2 separate regions of the Homo sapiens genome follow, and region 2 is linked to region 1. Evidence: fine-mapped expression QTL. A gene starts in region 1. The other region holds a variant in brackets. All regions are shown on one strand. Distances are between the middles of the regions. Region 1 holds the start of NDUFA5 (NADH:ubiquinone oxidoreductase subunit A5). Region 2 overlaps IQUB (IQ motif and ubiquitin domain containing).

The links. PIP is the estimated chance that this variant, and not a neighbour inherited with it, causes the effect. A credible set is the group of variants that fine-mapping cannot tell apart.
Region 2: its variant is the best candidate, but not a certain one, in a credible set for the expression of NDUFA5 in gastroesophageal junction (GTEx, PIP 0.63).

What each region holds. Positions count from the first base shown.
Region 1 is chr7:123,553,388-123,562,823 of GRCh38, reverse strand. It overlaps NDUFA5 (NADH:ubiquinone oxidoreductase subunit A5), which reads left to right and starts at 5,006. Exons shown (of 5, transcript NM_005000.5): 1 at 5,006-5,049; 2 at 5,376-5,420. The coding sequence starts at 5,029. RefSeq lists enhancers at 4,529-4,668, 4,929-4,978, 4,719-5,297, 4,534-5,733, 5,298-5,876.
Region 2 is chr7:123,467,668-123,477,103 of GRCh38, reverse strand. IQUB (IQ motif and ubiquitin domain containing) reads left to right here. Exons shown (of 13, transcript NM_178827.5): 9 at 7,720-7,890. Among named protein-coding and RNA genes, the nearest start is that of IQUB, 62 kb to the left of the region's middle. The variant A/GGA (reference allele first, on the strand shown) is at 5,472.

The DNA of each region.
Region 1 (9,436 bases):
CTCTGACTCAAAAAAAAAAAAAAAAGAAAGAAAGAAAGAAAAGAAAAAGAAAAACAGCCTTATTGCTGATATGGAGAAAGTTTTAGTGACCTGGATAGACCAGGCCATCCACAACATTCCCTTAAGCCAAAACCTAATCCAGAGCAAGGCCCTGACTCTCTTCAGCACTATGAAGCCTAAGAGAGGTAAAAAAAGCTGCAGAAGAAAACTCTGAAGCTGTTAGAAATTGGTTCATGAGGTTTAAGGAAAGAAGCCATTTTCGTAACATAAAAGTGCAAGGTGAAGCAGCAAGTGCTGATGTAGAAGCTGCAGCAAGATCCAGAAGATCTAGCTAAGATCACTGATGGAGATAACCACAGGAAACAATAGATTTTTAAAAATGTAGATGAAACAGCCTTCTATGGGAAAAAGATGCTATCTAAGACTTTCAAAGCTAGAGAGGACAAGTCAACACCTGGCTTCAAAGCTTCAAAAGACAGGCTAACTCTCTTGTTACAGGCTTATGCAGCTGTTGAAGCCCATGCTCACTTACCATCCTGAAAATCCTAGGACCCTGAAGAATGATGCTAAATCTAGTCTGCCTGTGTTCTATAAATGGAACAACAAAGTCTGGGCTAAGAAAAAAGAAGATTTCTTTCAAAATATTACTGCTCATTGAAAATGTACCTGGTCACTCAAGAGCCCTGAGGATGAAGATGTACAAAGAGATTAACATTGTTTTCACGCACAACATGCTGCAGTCATCATTCTGCAGTCCACGAGTCAAGGAGTAATGTCCACTTTCAAGTCTTATTTAAAAAAATACATTTTATAAGGCTATAGTTACCATAAATACCGATTCCTCTGACAGATCTGGGTAACATAAATTGAAAACCTTCTTGAAAGAACTGACCACACTAGATGCTATTAAAAAGATTTGGTGATTCATGGGCCAGGTGCGGTGGCCACGCTTGTAATCCTAGCACTTTGGAAGGCTGAGGTGGGTGGATCATGAGGTCAGGAGTTCAAGACCAGCCCGGCCAAGACGGTGAAACCCCGTCTCTACTAAGAATACAAAAATTAGCCGGGTGCGGTGGCAGATGCCTGTAATTCCAGCTACTCGGGAGGCTGAGGCAGGAGAATTGCTTGAACTGGGGCAGCAGAGGTTGCAGTGAGCCAAGATCATGCCACTGCACTCCAGCCTGGGCAATAGAGACTCTGTCTCAAAAAAAAAATTGGTGATTCATGCAAGGAGGTCAAAATATCAATATTAACAGGAGTTTAGCAAAAGTTGATTCCAACTCACATGGATGACTTTGAGGGGTTGAAGATCAGTGGAAAAAGCCATTGCAAATGTGAGGAAAACAGCAAGAGAACCAGAATTAGAAGTAGAGCTTGAAGATGTGACTGAACTGCTGCAATCTCATGATAAAACTTGATCAGATGATGAGTTGCTTCTTGAATGAACAAAGAAAGTGGTTTCTTGAGATGGAATCTACTCCTGGTGAAGATACTGTGAATATTGTTTAAATGACAACAAAGTCTTTATAATATTTTATAAATTTGGTTGATAAAGCAGCAGCAGAATTGAGAGGACTGATTCCAATTTTGAGAGTTCTTCTGTGAGACAAGTGTTATCAAACAGTGCCTTCTGCTACTGACAAATCTTTTGTGAAAAATTTCTGCAAAAAGGAAGCTGGGATTTTGATAGGAATTGTGATGAAACGCTACATCAACTTGAGTATTGCCATCTGACCAATATTGACTTCAAATCATTAAATAAGAAATGTCTATTTATTTAGATCTTTAGTATTTCCAACAATATTTAATACTTTTCAGTGTACAAGTGTTACACTTATTTTGTTAGATTTATTTCTTTTTGATGCTATGGTAAATAGAATTGTTTTCTTAATTTATTTTCAGATTATTCATTGCTATAATAGACTAGAGCATATTTTTGTATATTGATTGCTATGGACTATGTCCCCCAGATTTCATATATTACAGCTCTAAACCTCAATAAAATGGTATTTGGAGATGGAATCTTTGGGAGATAATTAGGTTTAGATGAGGTCATGATGGTAACAGTGGCCTTATAAAAAGGGACACCAGAGATCTTGCTCTCCACCCTGACCCAACCCCAAGCACACACGAAAAGAGGTAAATATGAGCATACCATGAGAGGGTAACCAGTATAAGCCAAAAGAAAAAGCCTCAGAATGAAATCTGTCTTGCTGGCTTTGGTCTTAAACTTATCAGCCTTCAGAACTGTGAGAAATACATTTCTGTTGTTTAAGCCACCTCATCCATAGTATTTTGTTATGGCAGCCTGAGCTGACCCTGATAGATCACGTATAATGTAACTTTGCTGAAGTTATTTGTTTTAATTGTATGTATGTGTGTATTCCTTAATAATCCTATATAAAAGATTATGCAACTGTGAATAGAGATAGTTTTACTTTTTCCTGTCTCTTCTGGATGACTTTTATTCATTTTATTTTCTTGCCTAATTCCCTTAGCTAATATTTCCAATATATTGTTGGATAGAAGTGGTGAGAGTGGAAAAATATTTGTCTTGTGAATGATCTTAGCAGAAAAGAATTGCCTTTCACTCTTAAGTATGATGTTGTGGGGTTTTTCTAAGCATCTTTATCAGGTTGAAAAATTTCTCTTCTTTTCCCAGCTTGTTGTGTGCTTTTATCATGAAAGCATGTTGAAATTTGTCCAATGCTTTTTCTGCATCTATTAAAATTATCATATAGTTTTTGTCCTGTATTCAATGGTACATTAGATTAATTGATTTGGGGATGTTAAACCAACTTTGTATTTTTGAAATAAATATCATTTATTTGTGGTGTATAATTTTTTTTTCATATGCTACTGAATTTGGTTTGCTAGTACTTTTCTGAGTATTTTGTGTTTATTAATAAGGGATATTGGCCTGAAGTTTTATTTTCTTTTTTCTTTCCTTTTTTTTTTTTTTTTTTGTGAGACGGAATCTTGCTCTGTCACCCAGGCTAGAGTGCAATGGCCCAATCTTGGCTCACTGCAACCTCTGCCTCCTGAGTTTGAGTGATTCTCCTGTCTCAGCCTCCAGAGTAGCTGAGATTACAGGCACACACCACAAGGCCTGGCTAATTTTTGTATTTTTAGTAGAGAGAAGGTTTTGTCATGTTGGCCAGGCTGTCTCAAACCCTTGACCTCAGGTGATCCTCCTGCCTCAGCTTCCCAAAGTGCTGGGATTACAGGCATGAGCCACCAGGCCCAGCCGAAGTTTTCTTTTCTTGTTGATTTCTTTGTCTGGTTGGAATCAGAGTCCACACCTGGCTGAAGTTTTTGTTTCTTGTTGATTTCTTTGTCTGGTTGGAATCAGAGTAATACTTGCCTTATAGAATTAGTTGTTAATTGTTTCCTCCTCTTCTATATTTTGGAATAGTTTCTTAAGTGTTATTCTTTAATTGTTCAGTGGAATTTACCAGCGAAGCCATCTGGACCTGTGCTTTTCCTTCTGGATAGGTTTTTTTTTTTTTCTTGCTAATTCAATTTCTTTAATTATGTTAGATCTAGTCAGATTTTTCTTTATGCCTTCTTGAGTTGATTTAGGTAGTTTGTGTTTTTCTAGGAATCTGGCCATTTTATCTACTTTATCTTTTTTAAGCATAGTTGTTCATAGTATTCCTTCTTATTCCTGTTTATTTCAGCAAGGCTATTAGTGATGGTTCTTTTATTCTTGCTTGTATTAAATCTTCTCTCTTTTTTTTCTTAGTTTCACTAAAGGTTTGCCAATTTTGTTGATCCTTTTAGGGAACCAATTCCTGGTTTCATTGATTTTCTTTATTGATATTCTGTCTCCTTCTTTTCTAATCTTTAATATTTCCTTTCTTCTGTTTGCTTTTGGTTTAGCTTTCATTTTTTCTAGTCTCATGCCTCTAATGAAAGGCCTCATCTCTTCCAACTCATTCTCTTCAACTGTTGCCTAAGTTGTTTGTATATCTGAAACATAAATTTGATGGTGTCACTTAGAAGCTTAAAAGTCTTCTCATTGTTCCCATTCCTTAAAAAGTAAAATTCAAATTTTGTATAATGGCAAACAACACCTTTCATAATCTTAACCAGTTTACCTTAACAATCAAACCCACCTTTCCAATCACATAAAATCACCTGGAATTTATATATACATTTTTAACCTCTTTTCCTTTGTACTTGTGTTTTCTCAATTTGTTCTTTTCTCCTACTGACTTTTTAGAAAGTCACCCACGCTTTTTAGTTATTTCCTTTTCCCTGGTACCATCACACTTTGCATCAACTTCTTTTAGAACAGTTACCAAATTATTTATTAATACACGCCTTCTTCATTATTCTTTGAATTCCAGGATGTGAAATCCCATTTTAGAAATTATGTCCCAGTAACTGACACATAGTGAGTGGTCAGTGTTTGTGGAGGTAGGAAAAAGTGGTATGGTCTGATATCATTTCATCTGGAAATAAGATGATGTATTTCAGCCAGTGAAATCGAAAAGAGCGATGGAAAATGACCTCACACTCCATAGGGCTTTGGTTCGTAAGACACAGAGAATACTGATATCCTTGTGCGAAGAACTAACTTGCTGTTGAGAGATCAATTCAGAGGATGCTCAAGCTCCGTTATCACTTTCATTTTACTAAACTGAGAAAGGAAGGTTGAGGAATGCATCAACGGTTAAGCACAGTGCAGGTTCCTACAGCGACTGGAGTTTTTTGGTAGTTGGGAGTGTTTCCCTCAATCTTTGGGCAAGCCGTCAGCAGTGGCAGGAACAGGAACAGACAGCTGGGAAACCCTTTCTTTCCCCAATCGTCTTCTAGCTTAGCTTTAGGCTTGTATGCCCATCGCGCATGCGTCAATTTTTCTCTTTTAAGATGGGCGGGGCAGAGTCTTTGCTCCTTTGGCGATCCTGAAGGGGTGGAGCTAAGCTGTTTCCAGGGTGACAGAGTGGCGACCTCGGTGGTCGATTGAGCAGGTCTGAGAATTGTTCCCAAAGGGTTGTGCGTCACCGAGTCGTTGGCGCTGTCATGGCGGGTGTGCTGAAGAAGGTGAGACGAATGGAGGTCACTGTTGGAATTTAGACTGTGGGGGTAGACTCAGTCCGATAGCCCTACTTCCCGCGGGTGTTGACCCCTACTGTCGCGGGCTCGGCGGTGCTTTTCGGGGACTCGTTCTGCATGCCTTACCGGGTAGGGCAGGTTAGTGGTTCCGCTCCGAGAGTCAGGAAAAAAGCTCCAAACAAGCGAGACTGAGAGACCAGTAGCTGGCTTTAGACCAGTTTTAGCCGGGGGATTCGTGGTTTTGTATTTCCTTAGCGTGCTGGATGTATGGAAACCGTAGTAAACAGCATGAATCGTGTTTTGTTTTTGAACAGACCACTGGCCTTGTGGGATTGGCTGTGTGCAATACTCCTCACGAGGTATGTACCTTTGTTCTTTCTTCGTTCTTGAATTCCCAAGGAAGACTAAATTCCTGTCACTTTGCTTATTGCAGGGTTAACGGGATACAGATGTTTCAAGCCCTTAATTACAAGCCGCGTGAGCTCTTGAGACACGGGCGCTGTCCACCTACTTCGTTGATCCGATGTCACATTTTTATTTATTTTTGCCATGACCTCTTTATTAAGCCAGTTTTCTTGTTGACTTTTTCCTTGACATTTTCATGGCTTCACTTGTGCTTGCTTCTGTCAGCGCCATCTCAAATTTATATCTCCGTTTTCCATCTTTTCTCCTTGCCTTACCGTTTCTGCTTAGGTGCGTTGGATTACATATATTTAGGCTTACTAAAGGTACTGCCCCCTTTTCCTTCTGTTAGGTCTTTTCCATCTGTATTCACGAATGTTTTCATCAAAAAAACCCACAAAATTTTTTTATTCTTCTTGTCCCTTCTATAATCACACCATTTCTTTGCTTCACTTTACAGATAACTCAAAAGAGTTATCTCTATTTTCTCCAATTTCTTTCTTATTCACCCTTGAATGCACTCAGTCACCCTTGGCGTTTTTCAAGTTCACCAATTATCTCCATGCTGCCAAATCCAATGGTCAGCTCATATTTCTCACCTTCATTGACCTAATAGCAGCGTTTTTTGACACATTTGACACTTTTTCCATCACGCTCTTTTCAAGTTCACCAGTTATCTCCATGTTGCCAAATCCAATGGTCAGCTTATGTTTCTCACCTTCATTGACCTAATAGCAGCGTTTTTTTTTTTTTGACACATTTGACACTTTTTCCATCATGCGCTTTCTTTACTGGGCTTCAGGACTCCCCCAGTCTCCTGATTTTTTCCCCCTACTCTTTGGCTTTCTCTTTTTCTGGTTATTTCTCTTATGCCCACTTTTAAAATTTGAGTTAGTCAGGATTTAGTTCTTGGACCTTTTCTTTTGGACCTGTACTCTGTCACCAAGAGAGAGCAAATCCAAATAGAGAACGGTTTTAAATACCACCTATACACTGACAACAGATTTCCATGTAAAGCACTGACCTCTTCCTTTATAAAAGTCCTGAATATTTAATTGCTTAGTGGGCATCTCTATTTGTATGTGTCAGACAGGCAACCCAAACTTAACATGTCCAAAATGGGGTTCCTGATCTTCTGCCTAAAACCTGCTCTTCTCTCAGTCTTGCTCATCTCAATTAATGGCAGCTCAATTATTTTGACTCAGGTCAGAAACTTGAAATCATCTTTGATTCCTTCCTTTCTCTTACACTCCACATTTGTTATTTCAGTAAACCCTCTAGGTTCCACCTTCAAAATATATCTTGATTTTGACAACATCTCACTACCTCCTCTGCTACTACCCTCTTCCTCAGTCACCATCATCACTGATGTGGATAATTGCATTCACTTCTTAACTGCCTCTCAATGCTTGTCACAGCCTCCATTTGGTCTTTTTTTCCAGCCAGGCTACTAGAGTTAGTCTGTTAAAATATGAGGTAGGTCAGATCTCTCCTTTCCTTAAAACTAATGGCTTTCCATTTCACTCTAAATAAAGACAAGTTTCTTACTGTGACCCTCTGGTTCACTATTCTACTGATTTATTTTGTTATGTCTCTACTAGAATGTAGGTTTCATGAAGGCAGGGATTTGTAATTGTTTCACTGCTAGAACTCTGTCACATAGTATGTGCTCAGTAAATAGTGTTAGTTGAATGAGTGTCTTGCACTTCCTATGATTTCATAATAACTTTATTGTCATTGATGTAAAGAACTGAACTCATGGTTTTTCCCTTCTAAATATATTTCTTCCTCTGTGGGCTGTATTTTTCTTGATAGTTTCAGATCTTTCTACTCCCTAGGCTGGGAATTTGGACATCATAGTTGGTATTTCTCTTATACTTGTACTCTCATATTCATTCCAATGATGATTTTTATTTTTATTTTTTTTGCTGATCCTTTTCTATAACAGCTCTCCAGTCTGACTTCTGTTTACTATTTCTATTGTTACTACCATAGTTCAGGTCCTTGTTCTTGTTTAGAGAATTGCAACAACCTCCTTACTGGCCTTTCTGCCTTGTTTCTCCTTCAGTCCTTTTAACTCACTACAATGAAGCTAATTTTCCTAATCTAATCATATGATTTTCCTAAATCTTTTAATTGTCCACAGAATAAAGCCCGAATGCTTTAACTTGGAATGCAGAACCACTTATAATGTGACATTTTCTCTAACTTTATCTCCTATGCATTTCCTTATGTGTCCTGTACAGCAGTATATTCCAAAATCCCCAGTGGATGTCTGAAAACCACATATAGTACCAAACTGTATATATGCTATGTTTTGTTTCATACATACCTATAATAAAGTTTAATTTATGAATTAGGCACAATAAGAGATAAGCAGGCTGGACGTGCTGGCTCACGCCTGTAATCCCAGCACTTTGGGAGGCTGAGGCGGGTGGATTGCTTTAGCCCAGGAGTTTAAGACCAGCCTGGCCAACATGGCAAAACCCCGTCTCTACAAAAAATGTGGAAATTAATCAGGTGTGGTGGTGTGCACCTAGTCCCAGCTACTCGGGAGGCAGAGGCAGCAGGATTGCTTGAGCCCCAGAGGTTGAGGCTGCAGTGAGCTGTGATGATGCCATTACACTCTAGCCTGGGTGATGGAGTGAGACCCTGTCTCAAAAAAGAAAAAAAAAAAAAAGAGATAACAACTAATAAAATAGAACAATTATAACAATATACTGTAATAAAAGTTATGTGAATGTGGTCTCTTTGTCTCAAAATATCTTACTGTACTGTACCACCCTCTTGTGATGAAGAAAGGATAGAGTGGGATAGTGTGAGATTTCACCACACTACTTTGAACGGCACATAGTTTAAAACTTATAAATTGTTTATTTCTGGAATTTTTCATTTAATATTTTCTGACTGAGGTTGACTATTAGTAACTGAAACCTTGGAAAATGAAACCACGGATGGGTAAAGGGGAGCTACTGTATTCTAACCAAGTGCTGGCCATTAAAAACATAATGCGAGCCTTAAATGTAAGCCATATTTGTATGTAATTTAAAATTTTCTAGGACTAATTTTTTAATGAAGAAAAAGGTAAAATTTAATTATTTTATTTACCCTAACAAATCTAAAATATTGCCATTTCAGTATATAATAAAAAAATTAATGGTATTTTATAGTGTTTTTCTTCATACTAAATTTTCCAACTCTGGTATGTATTTATACTTATAACACATCTCAGTTTGGACTAGCCACATATCAAATGCTCAGTAGCCATATTTAGCTAGCATCTACTGTTTTAGACAGCACAGTTCAAGAAAATAGAACTATATACCACTTCCTTATGTTTGCTGTATTTTCTGCCATTCAGTTCTATGTATTCTGTATGTAATTGCCTTTTCCAATATCATTTAAGTTTCTATGATCTACCATCCCTCTGGGTCTATCTTAGATGCCACCTTTTTGAAATATGAATGCTTCTCTGGTCTCAGCTGAAGTGAATTCTTCTTCTGCTATAGAAAAATAATGCTAATACTTAGTGAAACTTAATGTGTACCAGGTACTGTTCTAAGTTGTATATACCCTATGAGGCAGTATTATTCCCATCTTACAGATGAGGGATGAAGGCACAGAGATGGAAATAACTTGTCCAGTGCACCTAAGGAGTGGAGCCAGTGTAAACTCAAGCAGTTATGTTCTGGTTAGCACACCCTTAACCGTTGCTAAGTATTATAATATCTCTTTGCTCTATGTATTTCCCCATCCCTGCCAAACACACACTTATTTTTTCTTTTTATCATTTTTATTATTTTTCCTCTTCTGTAGCTTACCCTGTGATATGGTTTAGCTCTGTCCCCATCCAAATCTCATCTTGAATTGTAGCTCCCATAATCCCCATGTGTCGTGGGAGAGGAACCTGGTGGGAGGTAATTGAATCATGGGGTGGGTTTTTCCCATGCTGTTCTTGTGATAGTGAAGAAGT
Region 2 (9,436 bases), 86 kb after region 1:
CACATGAACTTTAAAGTAGTTTTTTTCCAATTCTGTGAAGAAAGTCATTGGTAGCTTGATGGGGATGGCATTGAATCGATAAATTACCTTGGGTAGTATGGCCATTTTCATGATATTGATTCTTCCTATCCATGAGCATGGCATGTTCTTCCATTTGTTTGTGTCCTCTTTTATTTCATTGAGCAGTGGTTTGTAGTTCTCCTTGAAGAGGTCCTTTACATCCCTTGTAAGTTGGATTCCTAATACCTCCTTAATTCTTTACTTCTTCCTTTCCAAACCCACTACCATTGCCTGTAGGGAAAAAGCTCTGCCCTGGTGTCCTGATGACTCTGCATATATCAAATAGGCCTTCCTATCTCCCCTGGGAGGATGTCATGAGACAGGTCTTGCCTTATCTTGTATGCATGAGCTCGACCCTGACATAATTGAATCTGGATTTTCTTCTCATCTGGATTTCTTTATGTTTCCAAATTGAGCTGCTGCCTCCAGTTTCACGTCTCAATTCTCTCCTCCATTATCTATATCACTGCCAAAGTGGCCTCACTAAACACAACTCTGACCCTGTCCTTCCTCACTGCCCTTAGGGAACAAGGATTTTCATGTTTGCAAACCTCACTTATCTCACTGTTGTATCACTGCCATCTCTCCCTGAATACTATACCCACACTGCTTCAGCCATGCTTGATTACTTGCATATCCCAGAAAGACCAGGTGCTCTCGATCCTTTTGCATTGGGTGCCTTTACATGGAACATCCTTTCCTTCCTTCCTCAGTAGCTAGCTATTGACCCTGAAACAAGCTCAGATGCCTCTTCTTCCAGAAAGCAAATGCTGGTCCACCTACTCTAGCCTGTAGTATATGCTCTCATGAGACTGTCTCATCTCTGTCTTTGTACATAGTATGCAATCTTTATTGTACCTACATGCCTGAATTCTTTCCAGATTTTGAACCTTTAAAGGAAAGAGTTGTCATTTATCTCTGTATCCTCATATCTTAGCACAGTTCTTACCACAGTGTCAATAAATGTTTGTGGAAGAAGGTAGGGAGGAAGAATAAGGGACAGAAATAGTGGTTGTATAATTTTGTATTCCAAGTATCATCAAGAAATTATGTAATGTAGATACTGTCATTTTAAATGCTTAAATATATTAATTCTAGGAAAGATGAATTTACTGTAGGAAAGCTATAATATTCATACTTCTCTGGAGTCATCTTTTGAAATAAACCTATTTGTTTAGCAAATTGCTTTACCTTGCATCCTGCTTCATCACTGGGATACTTAATTGTTAACCTCACCAGAGAAGAGAGTATGGGCCCAGGGCAACACAAATATTCAAAGGAGCTGGAAGCCTCTGAGTGTCCATGGACAGGGAAGATGGGTGTCACCTTTCTTTATTTGATGCTGAGCCTTCTGTAGAATTTTCCCACTAGTGCCATCATACTGTTTTCTATTTCCTGCAAACTATTTAAAATTCTATTGTTGTATATACTTACACAATATCTATTCTTCTTTATGCCCAGAACATTCCCTACCCCAGTCCCCATGTCTAGCATTGTCTGTAAACATTTAACTAAACTTCTTGAAATTATGGAGTATCCATAAATGGATCAAGGCCCAACATATGAAAGTGATTCCAGAGTCAGTTGATGACCACTACCCTTTCTCATGAGGTGTGGCACTCTAAGATGGTCTTCATGTAAATCTCACCAAAAAAAAAAAAAAAAAAAAAGTGAAATGGAGAAATTTTAAAATTCTGTTTACCAGAATTCCTAGGAGGAAGGAAGATCTATTTTTTTGTGTTTGTTTTTTTGTAAATACTTTGATAAGCTGTTGGGGTGGAATTTGAGACTCTGAAGGATCCTGAGTACAGAAAGAATTGTTCTGTTCCAGGAAAATGGAAGTTTTCAAGAGTTGTTCTAGAGGGAACTAGATAAGGTAAAGTGAGGAGAGAATTGGAAGGCAGTGGGTGTACAGTGTGACTTTTTGTGACTTCTTTAGTTATGTGACTAAATAAAGGAAATATTAAACGCAACATAATTTTATTTTTGGAAAGGGAGAGGAAACCAGATAAATAAGCTGGGCTCCATGTCCAGATGGATACAGGGTAACACACAAAGGTGAAAGGCAGAGAATTGAGGGAAGGATGAAGTTAGCCACAAGAATTTGTAGAAATCAAGGCAGAGGTGTTTTGTGGGTCACATGTTTTAGAATTGGAGTTCTAAACCCACAGTTACCCCAGCTGATAAACCAGTTAATCTCATCAATCTCCAGGCTAAATTTTAAAGGAAATTGACATTTTAGTTGATACAATGGGACTTTCCTTCAGTTTTGACTAAAGACTTGTATTAGGACAGGAAGAACACACCACAATATGGATCAGCTACACTTGACGATAACTCCCAGTCAGTGCACATAGCCTAATTAGTCCAGTGTTTAAAAATGTTGACTAACAGTGACTTCTGGCCTGCTTTTAGCCTGCTATAGTGAATTAAAAACTCACTGTTACTCTAATTCAGAATCATTTAAATCACCTTTTTGTATATGATTCTATACTAAGAAGACGATTAAGATAAATTTTAGTCTTTTGATGTGAATACTTATAAAATGTCTGTTTTTCTCTATGCTTGTCAACCTCCCCCACCCCCAAGCCTAGTATTATCTCTAATATTCAGGAGGAGTCAGTGTTGATTTCATAAAACTTGAATGAAGTAACTTATTATTCTAAAGTTTTTGATTTTTAAGAAAAGATAGCTTATAATTAATCCCTGCAAGTAGACAAGGTCAGAGTTTTTTCAGATGTCAAAATTAACAAACAACCAGTGCCATATGTGAATTTGAAGATCTTCATTTAACACCACAATATACAGATACATCCAGAGAAACATTTACTTTCCTTTAATTTGGAAATAACTTTGGAGAATACAATTTTATATTTTAGTTTCAGTTTCACTTTTTTGAGTCCAAATACTGTGTGGTTTATTGAAACAATATTTTATTTTTAATCCTTTTTTCCTGAACATAGAATGTCTCTGAATAATGAATTATACAGTCTTAAATTTGTCCAGTCAAAGCATTGAACTAATAGATTATAATAGGCTCTATACTAAGTCCTCATTCTTAATAAAAGGCTAACTCTAAAGATTTTTAAAGCATTAAATAATTAGTAATTTTAAGTCACCAAATATTGACTTCCACAGAGTATCAAATATTAAAAACTTGGCTGGGCATGGTGGCTCACGCCTGTAATCCCAGCACTTTGGGAGGCCAACGCAGGTGGATCGCGAGGTCAGGAGTTTGAGACCAGCCTGACCAACATGGTAAAACCATGTCTCTACTAAAAATACAAAAAAAAAAAAAAAATTAGCCGGGCATTGTGGCGGGTGCCTGTAATCCCAGCTACTCGGGAGGCTGAGGCAGGAGAATCACTTGAACCCGGGAGGTGGAAGCTGCAGTGAGCCGAGATTGCACCATTGCACTCCAGCCTGGGCAACAGAGTGAGACTCCATCAGAAAAACAAAAAACAAAAAACAAAAAAACAAAAGAACTCACAAAGCTTGACAGAGGTGAAGAAATTCAGGTCAAGAAGTTTGAATCAAAAATCATCAGCTGGTTTCTAATATATCTTTGGGTTTATTTACCCAAACTCTGTAGAGACCATTTGAATTTCTGTAAGATGTTTTTCCTTGAGTCAAGGCCATTTATTTATTTGATGCCTGTTGATTTGTACACTATTCACAATTGCAGGCTTAAAGAACTGCAATCCATGTTAGCTGTGTCTTTTAAATGCTTTTTCTCCATACCCAGGTAGCTAACAGTTAATGGGGCAGGAAAGTGCCATGGCCTCTTTCTGAACTCTGCATGAAATAAGAGTGCTGCTATGGCTGAGCAAAACCCCTGTGCTGTGTAAAAGAAAGGTTGATCACTATATAGTAGCTTCTGCGGGGAGTTAGGGCTATTCTTAATTTGTGTCCTTAGGGGCTTGATAATTAATTTAAGAGGAAGAAAATATCTACTTTCCTAGTGCAGTCATTTCTTCTTTTTTGTGGAAGCCTGCTGCTCTCCAGGTTCTTGTTATTTCTCCACCTTCCTTTCCCTGAAATGTGTCTTCCTGCTGTTCTTCTGTTTCTCTCTTCCAGGGTCTGTGCTGTCTCTTTTGTTGGCAGCTAAATGGAATTTATTATGCTCCTATTTTCTGAAGCAATTTAAGTACATGATTGTTGTATATCTGTTATCACAGCCAAAGCTTTCAAAGAAAAAAGGAAATAAGGAAGAGAAATAAGCAAAGTTGACATTTTTCCTGCGTCAGAGTTAAAAACACCTTAAGCCCTGAAATCAAAAAAGCCTAGGCTTGAAGATCAAGTTATCTGTGTTGGCAGAAATACATCTAAGTATAAAAACAGCTTTGCTGAACAGATTTTTTAATATCTTTTCAGTGCCAGCTCTAGGGAACTTGAACTTCAAATCTAGGATTCTTTGATTGTATCACTCGGTTCCCTTTAATCTGGCTAACTCCTAGTTATTCTTCAGATTTCATCTTAGATACTTTCTTTTTACCAGTTAAGTGCTTCATAGCAACCCATAGTTACCTATTTATCTACAGTCATCAAGCGTACTCATCTTTTTTTCTAATTACTCATTTTCTTACCCTTCCATCCCATGAGATTTGAGAGTTCTTGAAACCAGGATAGTATTTTATCTACTCAGTGCCTAATACATTGATTAATGTATAGTAAACACAGTAAATATTTGTTGAATGAATGAAAGAGTATTGTAGACACTGTGAGATATATAGAACTACATGAGAAATTTCTTTCTCTTTCTTTCTTTATTTCTTTCCTTTTCTTTTCTTTTTTCTTTTTTTTTTTGAGTTGGGGTCTTGCACTGTTGCCCAGGCTGGAGTGCAGTGGTGCAGACTTGGTGCACTGCAACTTCCACCTCCTGGGTTGAAGCAATTCTCCTGCCTCAGCCTCACAAGTAGCTGGGATTACAGGTGAGTGCCACCGCACTCAGCTAAATTTTGTGTTTTTAGTAGAGATGAGTTATCACCGTGTTGGCCAGGCTGTTCTCGAACTTCTGACCTCAAGTAATCTGCCCGCCTTGGCCTCCCAAAGTGCTGAAATTACAGGTGTGAGCCACCGTGTCCGGCCGAGAAATTTATTTCTCATACTCTTTTGGGAGAAATGGAGTTAGCAAACATAAAACAATTATAAAGTAATTTGGATCCAAATTTCATTGCCTGTAGTCACTGAAATAGAGACATTGTATACTTGTGTGTTTTTACAAGTGCAATAGGATTTCACATACAAGTGATATAATTGTTTCAAACTATAGTAGTTAGAGGAATCTTTATGGAAGAGGTAGGGTTTGAGTTCAAAATGGAAAGGTGGAAAGGACTTAGATGAAGAATGTATTTGGAAACCAAGATCTAACCACATTATGCTATATTTGTTAGGCTAAAAACTTGGGGGGG[A/GGA]AAACAGAGTTAAATCAGTCTATCAACTGAAAAATACAATGTGATAGGTAAAGTAGGTGTTTCATAAAAAGGTTATTGTATTTGAATTATTACAAATGAAATAATTTACCACCATGCAGATCAAAAGGTGTTGTCCAAATTACTGGAAGAAAAGCAATTGCATTTAATACAGCAAACCTGAGGAAAATTGTATGCAAAGATTAAGACATTGGTTAGACTTTAGAATATTACAGCATGAAACTTAGCCCTAGCCTTTAAAAACTTTTTAAAAAGAGCTTTAAAATAAGCATCAAACTTCAGTAACACTCTGAGGCCTACCCAAAATAAGGCTATATGCATTTAAAAATTATTTTATTCCTAAGTGATGAGAATTGAATGATAAAATATTTTATTATTGAGCTATTTTCCTTATAAGCTTTTAATCAATCTTAATTATATCGGTCTGATAATAATACATTATTTAATATTGAATTTATGCTGTAACAATTTAAATTAATTATAGGGCTGCAGCTTCTCATTTACTGGATTGAAACTGGAGCTGAGAATCTAAAGTTTCTGATGAAGATTCCTACCTCTGAATAACATTCATTTTGGCTTTGATCTGAATATGATGCCATTACTTTGAGAATATATCAAATATAGTTGTTTTTAAGAGGTAGCTTTGCAGTTCTCAATGTGATTTAGCTAATGTGAAATATAAAAAATTAGTTGTAAATTGATGTTACAACTAAAATTCCCTCCTGATACTGTCATTGTTTTTTTCTTTTTTCTTTTTTTTTTTTGAGACAGAGTCTTGCTCTGTCACCCAGGCTGGAGTGCAGTGGCGCGATCTCGGCTCACTGCAAGCTCCGCCTCCCAGGTTCATGCCATTCTCCTGCCTCAGCCTCCCGAGTAGCTGGGACTACAGGTGTCCGTCACCACGCCCGGCTAATTTTTTGTAGTTTTAGTAGAGACGGGGTTTCACCGTGTTAGCCAGGATGGTCTCGATCTCCTGACCTCGTGATCTGCCCGCCTCGGCCTCCCAAAGTGGCTGGGATTACAGGCGTGAGCCACTGCACCCAGCCTACTGTCATTCTAAATACAGTTTTATATAATGTCTCTATTTGGTTAGTCCATATTCCTGATGATCTGTTCCAATACATAGAGCTTCCATTTAAACCTTACATTAGATCACATCTAAGATTTAAATGTTTGCAAGTATGGTGTAAATTGTATTACAAGGACACCAGAGCAATTACAGTTAACCTACAAAAACATCCAACATGTTTTTGAAGAATTGTCATGATCAACATAGTCTTGTTTCTGAAAAATTATCATTAGGGAAAGAAACTGAGCAGCTTTGTACCCTAAAGTGGAAGAGCTAATAGACAGTAAGTGTTCACTGTGAAATTTCTGGGTGAATGCATCTCCTCTAAATGTCCCTGTCAGAGGGAACAGAAGCAGTGGCAAACACAGAGGTATCATCATTAAAGATTATCCTGTTTCCTGAGTCGGTAGAGGACTAATTTCACCTCCTGTCTCTAATCTCTGAATTCTTAGCCTGGGAGTCCTCAGATGAGCTTCAGGGCAAGTGAACTTCATTTTTGGCCCTTCATTTAGGAGGTGGGCTAGGTTGGGAGGCACCAAGCCAGATTTGGAAATAGGAAGTGAGAATCTTAGCCAGCATCAGGGAGGCAGGAACCACAGCCCAGCACAGTTAAGATAGCAATATAGCTCTTTCACTATGGACATCTGCTTTGAGAAGAATTTTGAACTTCTTATAGAAGTATTTTTATAGGACATTAAACCATAACTCACAGAGTCCCTTTTTGGTATATCTTTAGGTCTAAATATATTGAGGATTGTCATAATTACTCTACAAAAGTTATATTCAATTGGCAAGGCAGGATCAAGACATATTTATATACACTCAATATAATTGAACCAAGCAAATAATTGTCCTCATGGGGTTAATGAGTAATTCCATACATCTCTCAAACAATTCAACATAAAAAACTAGTAGCAAATCCTGAATATTGTAGAAGTGTATGAACTTCTACAGACTGAATAACTGTCATTCTTATTTGTTTTTTTCTAAAATATTTTACTTTTGCCTGATCTGCAAATTCTTAAATTAATTTTCATAAGCTTTAGCAATACTTTAGTTATAAAGCACATGATATTAAGGTAGACTTTTAGTAGAAGGAGCAAAATTGTTATACGTAGTTTCTAATTAACTGATAATTATAAACATAATATTATTTTTAAGTGTTCAGCTCCAAAAATATGGAGAACCCCTAATGGCAAAACAATTGAGATGGATACGCAGTTCACCATCAGAGCCAGAGAGCTGCAAAATATCTATAAGTGCATTATGCTGAAAAATATCTCCCAAGATGAGAGGCTGGATGTGCTGTTAACTCTTAAACACACTGTAAAGGTATGTTAACTTTCTCTTAGTTTGGGGGTAGAGTTCACTGTCAATAAAAAAAAATTAATGAAATACTAAAACAAGTAAAGTGTTTTACATTAAGAATTGTTTTGGTATAATTTGGGAAGGATGTGGTTTATGCATTAATATTTACCTAAAAGTTCTCAAAATATAATACATAATAAATGTAAATATAATGAATGTAAATATATCTTTATGCAATGAATGCAAATATATGCAGTATAGCATGAGATTAGTAATTACATAAACAGCAATTATAATCTACATATTTTGACATTTTTCAGTGAAAAATTGATTTTTAGCAGTTTTAAAGCAGCACCATTGTATTTTTATCTTTTTTCTCATCAATTATTGATTTTCTGTGTTCTTAATCCTACTTTTAATGAAAACAAAGTTAGTGGATGTCACAGATCAAATTTTCCCAAGAAACAAGAAACAAACTCAGAGATGGGGTTTATATTCAGGAAGTTTGTTGGAGAGTGCTATCAGGATAATTCCTGTGAGGCAGTAGAGAAATCAGAATCGGGAGGATAGAGAAATTAAATTGTGGTGGATTCTGAACAATGACTTCAGCCAGTGTCACGGGGAATTCTAAAACTGGAAAGGCCATCCAGAGTTGTCCTGAATTTAGGCAAGGGGCCAGGACAATTTTGACCACGTATTGGATGGGCTGCCCCAGAAGGGCATAGCTTTGGATGAGATAACTTTCTTTAATAGAGAGCAATTCTCAGGAAGAGCCTCGCTTGAGAGTTGTCAGCCACCAATCTGCCAGGATGGGGAGAATACACACGCTGCTGCCTGGATCCACTTCATGTTGTAGGTTTCAGGATTAGCTCCTCTGGATTTAGATAGGCCCCAAAGCAAGGTTAAGAAAAACTGCAGCCCCTAGTGTAGTCATTGGCTTTAAGGCCACAAGAGATACTCACTGTTTCCTTCCTCTACTATCTATTTTAGATTTCCTTCTCCCTGAACTAGCATCTTGACTGGTCCAGGTGACCCACTTTTTGGAGTGACTTGCATCTTGAGAGGTCTGAACCACAGGTCACTATGCTTTTCTCAGTCTGAGGCTACCAGACTTCCATTTACTGTCAAAATCAAGCAAAGATATACCAAGAAATGCCCATTACCTGGGTGCCAAACATATTCTTCTCTGTCCCTATTGGGTAATAACTGCACCATTGCCTTTTGAAGATCAGAGTCAGTTACCTCTATAAGCAAGAAAACACTTGCCTTGCCCGCAGGTCTCTTGGCCTGCGGAGCTTAGGCATTAGTTGTAGCTCAGAGTTTAATAGGACTTGCGCTATGTCTTACATTAGAAGCATTTTTCCTCCAGGAATTAGGACCTCTAAACTTGAAGAGTCCAGAGTTACAGGGGCAGGAAGCAAACATTTCCCAAGTAGTAATTGGGGCCATTTTTACTTTCACCTCCTCTGTTCCCAGACAAGGGCAGTTCAGGGGCTTCCACTTGGTCTTCCTCATCATGATAGCTCTTACTCCACAGGTCAAGAAATCAAGGGTAGTGAGGCTGTGCCAA